Linked DNA regions of Homo sapiens. The protein of the gene in region 1 purifies or fractionates together with the protein of each later gene. This does not show direct contact. Each region holds a gene or a part of one and is shown on either strand. Other genes may lie near its edges.

Region 1 (3,654 bases):
AGGCAACCTGTTGAAAGAGGGCATGGAAAAAATGTGAAATTGGCAGACATAGAATTTCTTAGATTCACACTTGTAAATTGAATAGACAGAAAGTTAAACGATATGGTTAAAAGCAAAGTTGCCTTATGTATTTGTAAATTATAAAGTAATACATATTTTCAGATTTTTAGTTAAAATCTCTGTCATTTTCCCAGCCAACATATTGTTCTTGCCTAATAACTTTGTTAACATTGGCAAGCTCAGTTGCTTACTGCTAAATGGCCTGGACGATTCCAGTGTGACTATTAAGAAATTGGGTCTTGTTTGCAGTGCCGGGAAGTTTATACTGGGAACAGCTGTGGTGTAGTGGCACTTTAGATAGGAGATGAATGAACCGTGAATCATATGAAGATGGAGACTGATCAGTATGCAGAGAAGTGTATCTGTCCTTCACTTATGGAACCTGATTTTATATCATATGATGACTAATAGCATTATTCTCACAGTGTGATTTTGGAGGATCAGTGAGTAACTAGAGATGTTGTCTTTTATGTTTGTGAATTTAAAATGTATTCTCCTTACATAAGACTATTGTAAAAGGTATCTATGAGCTTAATAAAATTGTAATCAAATCCCTCTACCACGTTTACTTTTAAAAGTTAATCAGCATAATAAAATGTGCCTTTATGCTTAATTGTTTAATATAGTGTTTTCCTAGATGCAATATATTTTTCATCTATAAAGTTCAGCAAGTCCAGCAGAAGCCCTGTTCTGAAAAATTACTAGCCTTTCAGAACTTTGGAATAAAATTTCAACATCAATGGAAAGTTTTAATTTTATGAAGAGATAATCTAATGTATATGACAGGAGGCAAAATCAGTTAAATTAGAAGTTAGTTTCTGGTGTCTGAAAGGCCCTATCTTCTCCATTAGGGAATATATCTTTGTTCAGATCAAATGCTAAGCAGAGTATTTCTTCAAATCACTCATCACTGCATTGCTCCCTCTGCCCACCCTCCACGGAGAGGGTGTGCAGGTATGAAAGGCTTCCCTCACTTTTTTTTTTTTTTTTTGAGATGGAGTCTCACTCTGTCGCCCAGGTTAGAGTGCAGTGGCATGATCTTGACTCACTGCAACCTCCGCCTCCCAGGTTCAAGCAATTCTCTGCCTCATGAAAGGCTTCCCTTTTCATCAGTGAACTAGCACCTGGAGAGCTCTGTTAGCCTGCTACCTTCCCTAGCAGTTGCATGCCCCAGACAGTATAGATCTCCATTAGTGTTGTCTTCAATGCAAGAAATAAAAATAATTTTGGTCTGGGCACAGTGGCTCATGCCAGTAATGGCAGCAGTTTGGGAGGCCAAGGCAGGAGGATTACATGAGGCAAGGAAATCAAGATCAGCCTAGGCAACATAGCCAGACCCCATCTCTACAAAAAGTGTAAAAACTTAGCCAGGCATGGTGGCGTGCACCTGTATTCCTAGCTACTAAGGAAGATGCAGTGGGAAGATAGCTTGAATGCAGAAGTTCGAGACTGCAGTGAGTCAGGATCATGCCACTGCTCTCCAGCCTGTACGAGAGTCTGAGACTCTGTCTCTACATAATCATCATCATAATAGTAATTTTGGTTTGGTGAAGCAATTGAAAATATTAAACCATAATGTGGCTTATGTGATAACTGTGTGACCTCAAACATTTCATTCCCCACTGTACACTTGAAGACCATAGTAGTTGCCCTGTCCATACCATGGATTGGTTTTGAGAATCCAGTGCATGTGGATGTGCTTTTTGAACAAACTCTGAAATGCAGTGCTTGATTGGAACCCAGAGCCCCCTCAGTACACCATGATGGACAGCACTGAGCGCCAGTATGTAGTGGCCCTCTGGCTCAGTTTTTGGCCTCTGTGTGTTGTTTTCTATCCAGAAGTTTTGGCAGCTTGCAGATTCCCCAGCCTCTGGCAGGCTCTCTCTTTTAGGCTGGCGATCTGCATTCTCCCACCTGTTGGAACTTCCCGCTCATCCCCTCCTGAAGGCCAAGGACTCTGGCTGACGTGCACCTTCTTAGCTTCCTCTGCTGAGGCTGCAGCTGCAGCTTGCCACATTGACACAGACCTAGGGTCCAGTAGTGATGACAGGAAGTCAACAGAAGGAATATTCTGAGCCCCTGCCAGCTTCTCACCAATTGTGCCAGTTCATCCTGAAGCCATCCGGAATATGAACACTTTGAGAAAAACAATGGTGGCCAAAAATTAAAAACAAAAAACAAAAACCAATTTGATAAACAGTAGCTGGCAGATGCCTTGTGGGCTTTGAGACCTTGCCTTTCCAAGCCTGCTCTGCATGGGACTCAGGAGCCTGGCCCTTCTGATTCCACAACCAGTGCAGAGTCTGTCCTAACCCTAGTGAGCTCTAGCAATTCTCATGCCCCCCTCACCTCAGTTTCTCTAACTCCTGTCATATTTACCATTTCGTAGGACTAGGATTTTATTGAGTTTTCAATTTGCACTTTCAGTACTGGATTTAATGTCTGGCCTGGGAAAATTTTAGCTATGACCTTGGCAGTCAGCCTCGCCCTTGCCAAGAACTTCTCTCCAGGAGCAAGACCCCTTTCTTTCTATTCTGTCTCTGATTCAATCTCAGTGTGACAAACCCTTGGACCTAAGGCACAGCTCCTCTCCTGACAGTGCATCATTTCCGCCTGAGACTTGTAGTGCCCGGTTCCACTTGACAAATAAATTCTCCTTGTCTGTCATTGTTGGCAGGATCAAATCTCAGTTCTCCACACCTCTCCCAAGCAATGTAATTTGAGTGGCTGACTATCCACTACAGAATTAATCCTTCATTAGGTCATTTGTTCTAGCCCAGTCCTAGCCTGCTTCCTGTCCCCACTGTTCCCTTGAAATTTGGCATGCCAGCTGAGCCATGACATCGTCTACCTTCTGTCACCTCTAGCACAGGAAGTGGTGCTAATGTAGACATCCTGGTTCAGGCAGGATATCCGCCGACTACTGCTGTTCAGATAAAATTCAGGTGAGTTTAAACCAAGGTGAAATACTTTCAGCCTGTTTTGGAGAGAGTTCCCAGAGAGAGGGGCTACCAAGTGTGTACTTCCCTGCATTTATGGCTGTGAAGTGTTTTGGTGCTCTTCTACTGAAGCCTTCTAATTTACCATAGGTAGCTATGGCTATAGACATAGATACATATAAAAATATTCTGTCACTAAACTGTAGGAAAAAGGAGCTGCTAACAGCCTTTGTCTACATTTTTTAAGACTTGTCACTTTGGAGTACATTTTCTCCCACTAGAATTGCCCATGGGATCCAGACTGGAGGGAAACCTGGTTACTGCTAACTATTAATACATACAGGCCAATTCTTGCCCACAGCCATTTGACATTCCATCGAGCTAGCTCTCACTTCCATTGAAACCTAATCCAGTGGTATTTTGTAGACTCACAATCCATATAAATTTTGGCTGAGCATAGTGGCATACACCTGTAGTCCCAGGTACTCGGGAGGCTAAGGCAGGAAGATCACTTGAGGCCAGGAGTTCAAGGTTATAATGTACTATGATTGCACCTGTGAATAGCCACTGTACTCCAGCCTAGACAACATAGCAAGACCCCCATCTCTTCAATAAAGAAAGAAAGAAAGAAGATCCCATATAAATATTAAATATT
Region 2 (3,654 bases), on another chromosome or scaffold:
GAAAAGCTCCTACATTCAACTCAGTTTCTATTTTCTATTTGGTTTTGAAGATAAAGTTCAATGAAAAACACTGGGAAAGTTTATACTTTAAAAATAAGTTTTAAAAAACATTAAAATGTACGTAACTTGGGAATACTTTTTCTTTTTGTAAATACCTGAATTATGATTTCACACCCCAAAAAATACAAGTAACCAACCCAATCTGCAACAAAGTGCTATCTGAAAACCGTCATTCAAAAAAATGACATCTTCAACAATCCTTGGGATGGAATACCACCTTAGTAATGGCCACCTATTTTTCTGGTATATATGAAGATGAAATATATATAAAGTTGGCCGGGTGCAGTGGCTCATGCCTGTAATCCCAGCACTTTGGGAGGCTGAGGCAGGCGGATCATGAGGTCAGGAGTTTGAGACCAGCCTGGCCAACACAGTGAAACCCTGTCTCTACTAAAAATACAAAAATTATCCAGGCATGGTGGCACGTGCCTATAGTCCCAGCTACTCAGGAGGCTGAGGCAGGAGAATGACTTGAACCCGGGAGGCGGAGGTTGTGGTGAGCCGAGATCGTGCCACTGCACTCCAGCCTGGGCAACAGAGCGAGACTCCGTCTCAAAAAAAAAAATAAAATAAAAAAAAAAATAAAATAAAATAAAATATATATATATATATATATATATATATATATATATATATAAATAATATATACATATAGTTAAAAGCTATATTTAAAGTGTTAAATTATTATGACCTCTTATGGCAAGTTACAGAATTTTAAAGGCAACTGAAGTCAGGTGTGGTGGCTCACGCCTGTAATCCCAGCACTTTGGGAGGCTGACGGGGGTGGATCACCTGAAGTCAGGAGTTTGAGACCAGCCTGACCAACAAGGTGAAACCCCGTCTCTACTAAAAATACAAAAATTAGCCGGGCATGGTGGCAGGCGCCTATAGTCCCAGCTACTCGGGAGGCTGAGACAGGAGAACTGATTGAACAGGGAGGCGGAGGTTGCAGTGAGCCAAGATTGCACCACTGCACTCCAGCCTGGGCAACAGAGCGAGACTCTGTCTCAAAATAAATAAATAAATAAATAAGGACAACTGAATTCAAAATGTTTTAAAAGGGTCACTACTTATCTTGTAGCAATACACACTAATTTGCTAAATCAATAAATCATAAACACTAAGCATACTCTTCATTGACATAATCAATCAAATGCAGGTCTCCAGATGTATTTTAGAGTTTGAGAAAAATTTTCAGGTACCATATGGCAATGGCAACCTACTCAAAAACAACTCTACACTGCATAAGATTGCAGAGTCATCCATCTTCCCAACTGTATGTTCAATGAAAGTTCCCCAACAAAAAACAGCAGTGCTTTGTAGTAACCCTTTGCTGTAAGAAAAAACAGCTTTCTATATTAGAAAATGCTAATCCCAGCTGGGCACGGTGGCTCATGCCTGTAATCCCAGCACTCTGGGAGGCCAAGATAGGCGGATCACCTAAAGTCAGGAGTTTGAGACCAGCCTGGCCAACAGGGTGAAACCCTGCCTCTACCAAAACTACAAAAATTAGCTGGGTGTGGTGGCGGGCACCTAGAATCCCAGCTACTTGGGAGGCTGAGGCAGGAGAATCACTTGAACCTGGTAGGCGGAGGCTGCAGTGAGCCGAGATTGTGCCACTGCACTCCAGCCTGGGTGACAGAGCGAGACTCCGCCTAAAAAAAAAAAAAAATGCTAATCTCTTAAATGTGGCAGGAACATTACAGAAAGAGCTTTAAATGAGGCACATGATCTAAAAAACAACATAAAACATTAGCTTACTGATTTATACTTCATCTTGTTCCATTGGCAGATATCCTCATTCTCCAAAGCACAAGGGGCTGCCACTTCTGAGTGAGCCCAGCATTTCAAAATCGGGAACTCTGAGAAAAGTGGTAGAAAATGATGTCAGAAAACCTGTATTTGGACTGAAAGCTAGGCTTGTATTAAACCTCAATAGACAGAAGTTGTCAAACATTTTAATACATTATGTATATGATCTGGACCCATCTATCACATTCTGTTATTTTAGCATCCTTTTTTATGTGAATGCCTAAGAAATTAGAAAATCACAAAAGTATTGCAAAAGTTGAACATGACTTCTTTTTTTTTTTTTTTTTTTTTTTTGAGACAGAGTCTCACTCTGTCACCCAGGCTGGAGTGCTGTGGTGCAATCTCGGCTCACTGCAACCTCCACCTCCTGGGTTCAAGCGATTCTCCTGCCTCAGCCTCCAGAGTAGCTGGGATTACAGGTGCCTGCCATTGCACCCAGCTAATTTTTGTATTTTTAGTAGAGATCGGGTTTCACCATCTTGGCCAGGATGGTCTTGAACTCCTGACCTCGTGATCCACCCACCTCAGTTTCCCAAAGTGTTGGGATTACAGGCGTGAGCCACTACGCCTGGCCAAACATGACTTCTTAATGAATCTCATTGTACTCAAATTTGGGGCTGCTCTTAAAAATTTAATGTAAACTTATTTTTGAAGCATCACTCAGAAAAGTGAACATATCGTAAGTGCAAAACTCGATAAATTTCCATATGAAACACACCCATAAAAGAGCATTCAGATAAAAAGACAGAATATCAGAATCCAGTTCTCTCAGGAGAGGAACTTTTTCAAACTTTATTTATGCTAAGAGGTACCTTTAATAGAAACAGAAAACAAGGTTGGATGAACAAAGGTAATATAATTGAACATTTTTAATTTTCTCGTCATGAAAGGTATGACGGTAACAAATGTAGTATTAAAAACTTCCCATCTGTCGGTTTTTAGTAACAGTGCTACTAACTTTTTTTTTTTTTTTTGAGACAGTCTTGCTCTGTCTCCCAGGCTGGACTGCAGTGGCGCGATCTCAGCTCACTGAAACCTCCGCCTCCCAGGTTCAAGTGATTCCCGTGCCTCAGCCTCCCAAGTAGCTGGGATTGCAGGTGCATACCACCACACCTGGCTAATTTTTATATTTTTAGTAGAGACAGGGTTTCACCATGTTGTCTAGGCTGGTTTCGAACTCCTGACCTCAACTGATCCGCCTGCCTCGGCCTCCCAAAGTGCTGGGATTACAGGTGTGATACACTGCACCTGGCCCCAGTGCTACTAACTTTTATAAACATTCTAAATCAACCCAAATTTGAAGACACAAAGAACCAAAAACTGAAAGGGGCTTCGTAAACTAAAGAAAATGTCTTGGCCAGGTGCTGTGGCTCACGCCTGTAATCCCAGCACTTTGGGAGGCCGAGGCGGGTGGATCACGAGGTCAGGAGTTCGAGACTAGTCTGGCCAACATAGTGAAACTCCGTCTCTACTAAAAATACAAAAATTAGCCAGGCATGGTGGCGCAGCCTGTAGTCCCAGCTACTCAGGAGGCTGAGGCAGGAGAGGCGGAGATTGCGGTAAGCCGAGATTGCGCCACTGCACTCCAGCCTGGGCAACAGAGCGAGACTCCGCCTCAAAAAAAAAAAATAAGAAAGAAAGAAAGAAAACATCTTGAGAAGACTGCAAACTGCAAAAGCTTTTTATTTTTTTTATTTTATTTTTTTTTTGAGACGCAGTCTCGCTCTGTCACCCAGGCTAGAGTGCAGTGGTGTAATCTTGGCTCACTGCAACCTCCGCCTC
Region 3 (3,654 bases), on another chromosome or scaffold:
AGCTACAATTCATGCAATACGCATATTTATGTGTAAACATTCTTCCTGAAAAACGATGTTTTGTAGGTAATCCATTCATTATTTGCATACATTTTACATAAATCACCGCACAAAACAGAAAGATTAATATTTTAATTACTTTGTTTTCACATTGAACCAGCTGCACAAATTCAATGTAACTATTAATGGTGGCAGCCAAGCAAACAGAATTTCTTATGCCTAAATAGATAAAATTTATGTGCACCAAAGAATTGAAAAAATCTGATAAAACTTACTTGCTACTCCTGATGCAAGTCCATAAAGCAGTCCTCCCCCATCCGACTGCTGAGGGAAAACATGGGCCCCTGGAGGAGGTGGCTTTTCTTGTCTGATAAAGTTATATAATAAGGTCTTCACAAGTTTGCTGGTGTATGGAAGACTATACAAAAAGGAAAAAAAAATCAAACTCATATTTATGGGAGTCATCTAATTCTGAATAACAATACAGAAATAATTCTGCCATTAACACTATCTGTTAATACAAAAGGGCTATTGGCACAACTCACAGAAATTGAGCACTGCACACAACAGTGAAGACCATGGGCTTTGAGAGCAATTTTGAGGCTTAATCCTTGCTTTTCCTCTTATCACATCATAAGATATTGATCAAATTACTTAAATACTTTTTTTCTGCAGTGGGGAGAAACAAGGTCTGGTAGAGACAAGGTCTCACTATGTTGCCCAGGCTGGTCTCAAACTCCTAAACTCAAGCGATCCTCCCGCTTCAGCCTCCCAAAGTGCTGAGATTACAGGCGTGAGCCACCGTGCCCAGCCCACTTGAACTCTTGAACTCCAGTTACTTTATCTACATTCGGTATAACACTGTGAGCTATTATAAATTTAGTGCATAACACATTATCTGGCAATTGAAGGGAAGTAGTAATAAAGAATCAGTAGAAAAAAGCAAGAATTTAAAAATAACAATAGGACTACACTTTTTAAGTATGAAATTATTCAATTATTCAATTGGTATTAAACTAATTCCTGCAATATAGAGTAAACTTTTTAACAGATTCTTTAATGTACTATTGAGCTTTTTAAATATGGTTTCCAAGATGAACCCCAAAAATAAGTAAAGAACATATTACGGTTTAAATATGTGGCACCATAATGATACTATAAAAACCTTACTTAGAAAATAAGAACACTAACACCCTCTATGTCTATTTTTAAAAAGCAACTTGAATACTCTGGCACTATAAGGGATGAAGTTCACAATCTTGTTTCAGCAAAGATGCACACAGTCCCACGATGCCAGCACTACTTCAAACCACGGTCATTCTGAGTGTCATTCTGAGTGTCTCTGTCAGAGAGGGTTCCAATGCAAACCTCTGACTCCAAAGCCCAGATCCTTTCCCTCAGTGATTTTCAAATATGTTCAAAGAACATACATGCCACAGGAATAATCAGGGTAGCAAAAAGAATATGAAGAAGACAAAGCTCCCCACTATCTGAGAACTTTCCTCAAAGGTACTTTATTTGGATTTGTTTTACATTTTTAAAGTTTTGTGAAGATTATGTTAATAAAAGGTCAGGTATGTGCATATGTGTTGGTCATTTGCATCCACACCCTCTAGGAGATCGTAAGCTTCTGCTCAAGAGCATAGCCCCACAGTCTAACATGCCTGGCACATGGATAGCACACAGCAAATATTTGCAGGCTCAAAGAAGTAGGAATAGTCAGCGAAGAGGCTGCTGGAGAAGTCCAAAGAGAGTAAGGGGGCATAGATCACAGGTGTTTCAAAGGGACTGCTGAGAAGAGGAAGATACAAAAATAATCTGAATAACAAATATGACTTGACTGCTTAAACATAGACAGAATGAAGGAGATGGAAGAAAAAGATGATTTCAAAGTTTCAATTCTACGAAGCAACCACTGGAGAAGGTAATGAAGCTACGGGACAGGAAGAACAGGGAGGATGGGTAGATGGCACAGGAAAGTAGAATGCGGTTCCCTATGCACTGGGTTTAAAGAGACAATAGAACAACTAGAGGAAATACCTGGTTGGAGATATGGGACGATACTCAGGTAAAAGGACAAGACTAGAAATATAGATTTATACAATGAAAAAACTAGACATACTTAAAGTAGAAACATACCATGGACCTCGCATCAAATACTTGTGGCTGATGCTCTGTCGCAAAACTTCTTTGTGGAAGAGTTGGCAGGAAAGGAAAACAACCATTGTTGATATAGCTTCTACTGATATTTCATATGTAATATCTCTAAAATGGAAGAAAAACAGAGTAACAGTCACTTTGGAAGATTAAGACACTATTCTTTTCTAAATGAACTATACATTTAAAAACTCAAATCTAAATATTCAGTATTTTCAGGTTACTGAAAAATGTTAATACGTTTAATACAAAAATTAAGTCAAGCAAAAATATTAAACTCCTTCCCTGTCATTAGCTGGTGTATTTGGGTTAGTTATCCCTTTATTTCCCTATTTTCCAGTTTCCATCTCCTATTAAATGACAAGTCTATTTATGTATAATGGAAATAGTTACTAGCAGTGTTCTGTTTTGAAGATTCACTCTAGACATCTATGTTCATTTCTGTTTAGTGATAATACAGAGACAAATACTCAGATTGTAAAGCTGAAGAGAAGGTACAGTGTAGGGAAGAAAACAATGCCTTTTCATGTTGATGATCACTTTACAATCAGAACAATAATACACCCTAGATCTTGTGTCTCTAGTGCCTACCTTTCTCAAGGTCAACTTTGCATGTTCAGCAAAATATTAACAGTAAACAAGTTATTCCTGTTTTATTAAGCATATTTTGATTATGAAGGGTTACTCTGTCCTCTCAAGATCATAAACCCCTTTGGGAAACAAGTCTTAGATCAAATAAAAAGAAAAAGATTCAGCTGAACAGAAAGCACACAGAGGAATAAAGGCATCCAGAAATTTCCAGTTACTGCAAAAGTTTAAACAGGATTATAATGGGGAACATGTTAAGACCAAGGAAGTAGAAACCTCAACAACGCAGTAAAAAGAGCAATAGCACCAAAAGAATACTAAAATATTTTTATAAAAATGAAATAATTATGAAAAACAAAGAAAAATACTTAACACCTACTTAAATGAAAGCTCATTAAACAAATTAATGATGACTTGATTCTAGAACTAGAAAAATTTAAATTCTACCAGATATCTTAAGGAGTTATTACTGATAGAAATATGTTTAAAAGGCCAGGCTCAGTGGCTCACGCCTGTAATCCCAGCACTTTGGGAGGCCAAAGCGGGTGGATCACCTGAGGTCAGGAGTTTGAGACCAGCCTGGCCAACATGGTAAAACCCCATCTCTGCTAAAAATACAAAAAATTAGCTGGGCATGGTGGCGGGCACCTGTAATGCCAGCTACTAGGGAGGCTGAGGCAGGAGAATGGCTTGAACCTGGGAGGCGGAAGTTGCAGTGAGCCAAGATCGTGCCATTGCACTCCAGCCTTGGCGATAAGAGCGAAACTCCATCTCAAAAACAAAAAATAAAGAAAGAAAAAGAAATATATTTAAAAATGACATATAAAAAAAGAAAAACACAAGAGACCCACGCAATTAGCCTTATTACGTGGTTGAATAAAGCTCAGCTCTACTCAGAAATCTGACTTT

What was found.
Region 2: the proteins of CHRM3 (region 1) and PIGX purify together in Homo sapiens (affinity purification with mass spectrometry; 2 studies listed by BioGRID and IntAct, with this or other methods). This does not show direct contact.
Region 3: the proteins of CHRM3 (region 1) and DYM purify together in Homo sapiens (affinity purification with mass spectrometry; 2 studies listed by BioGRID and IntAct, with this or other methods). This does not show direct contact.

The regions. Positions count from the first base shown.
Region 1 is NC_000001.11:239,389,566-239,393,219, forward strand, and holds part of CHRM3 (muscarinic acetylcholine receptor M3), read left to right. Parts: intron 1-3,654.
Region 2 is NC_000003.12:196,729,260-196,732,913, reverse strand, and holds part of PIGX (GPI alpha-1,4-mannosyltransferase I, stabilizing subunit isoform 2 precursor), read right to left. Parts: intron 1,923-3,654; coding exon 1,822-1,922; intron 1-1,821. UniProt on the Homo sapiens protein: Stabilizing subunit of the glycosylphosphatidylinositol-mannosyltransferase I complex which catalyzes the transfer of the first mannose, via an alpha-1,4 bond from a dolichol-phosphate-mannose (Dol-P-Man) to the glucosaminyl acyl phosphatidylinositol (GlcN-(acyl)PI) intermediate to generate alpha-D-Man-(1->4)-alpha-D-GlcN-(1->6)-(1-radyl,2-acyl-sn-glycero-3-phospho)-2-acyl-inositol and participates in the sixth step of the glycosylphosphatidylinositol-anchor biosynthesis.
Region 3 is NC_000018.10:49,331,589-49,335,242, forward strand, and holds part of DYM (dymeclin), read right to left. Parts: intron 2,266-3,654; coding exon 2,140-2,265; intron 419-2,139; coding exon 276-418; intron 1-275. UniProt on the Homo sapiens protein: Necessary for correct organization of Golgi apparatus. Involved in bone development.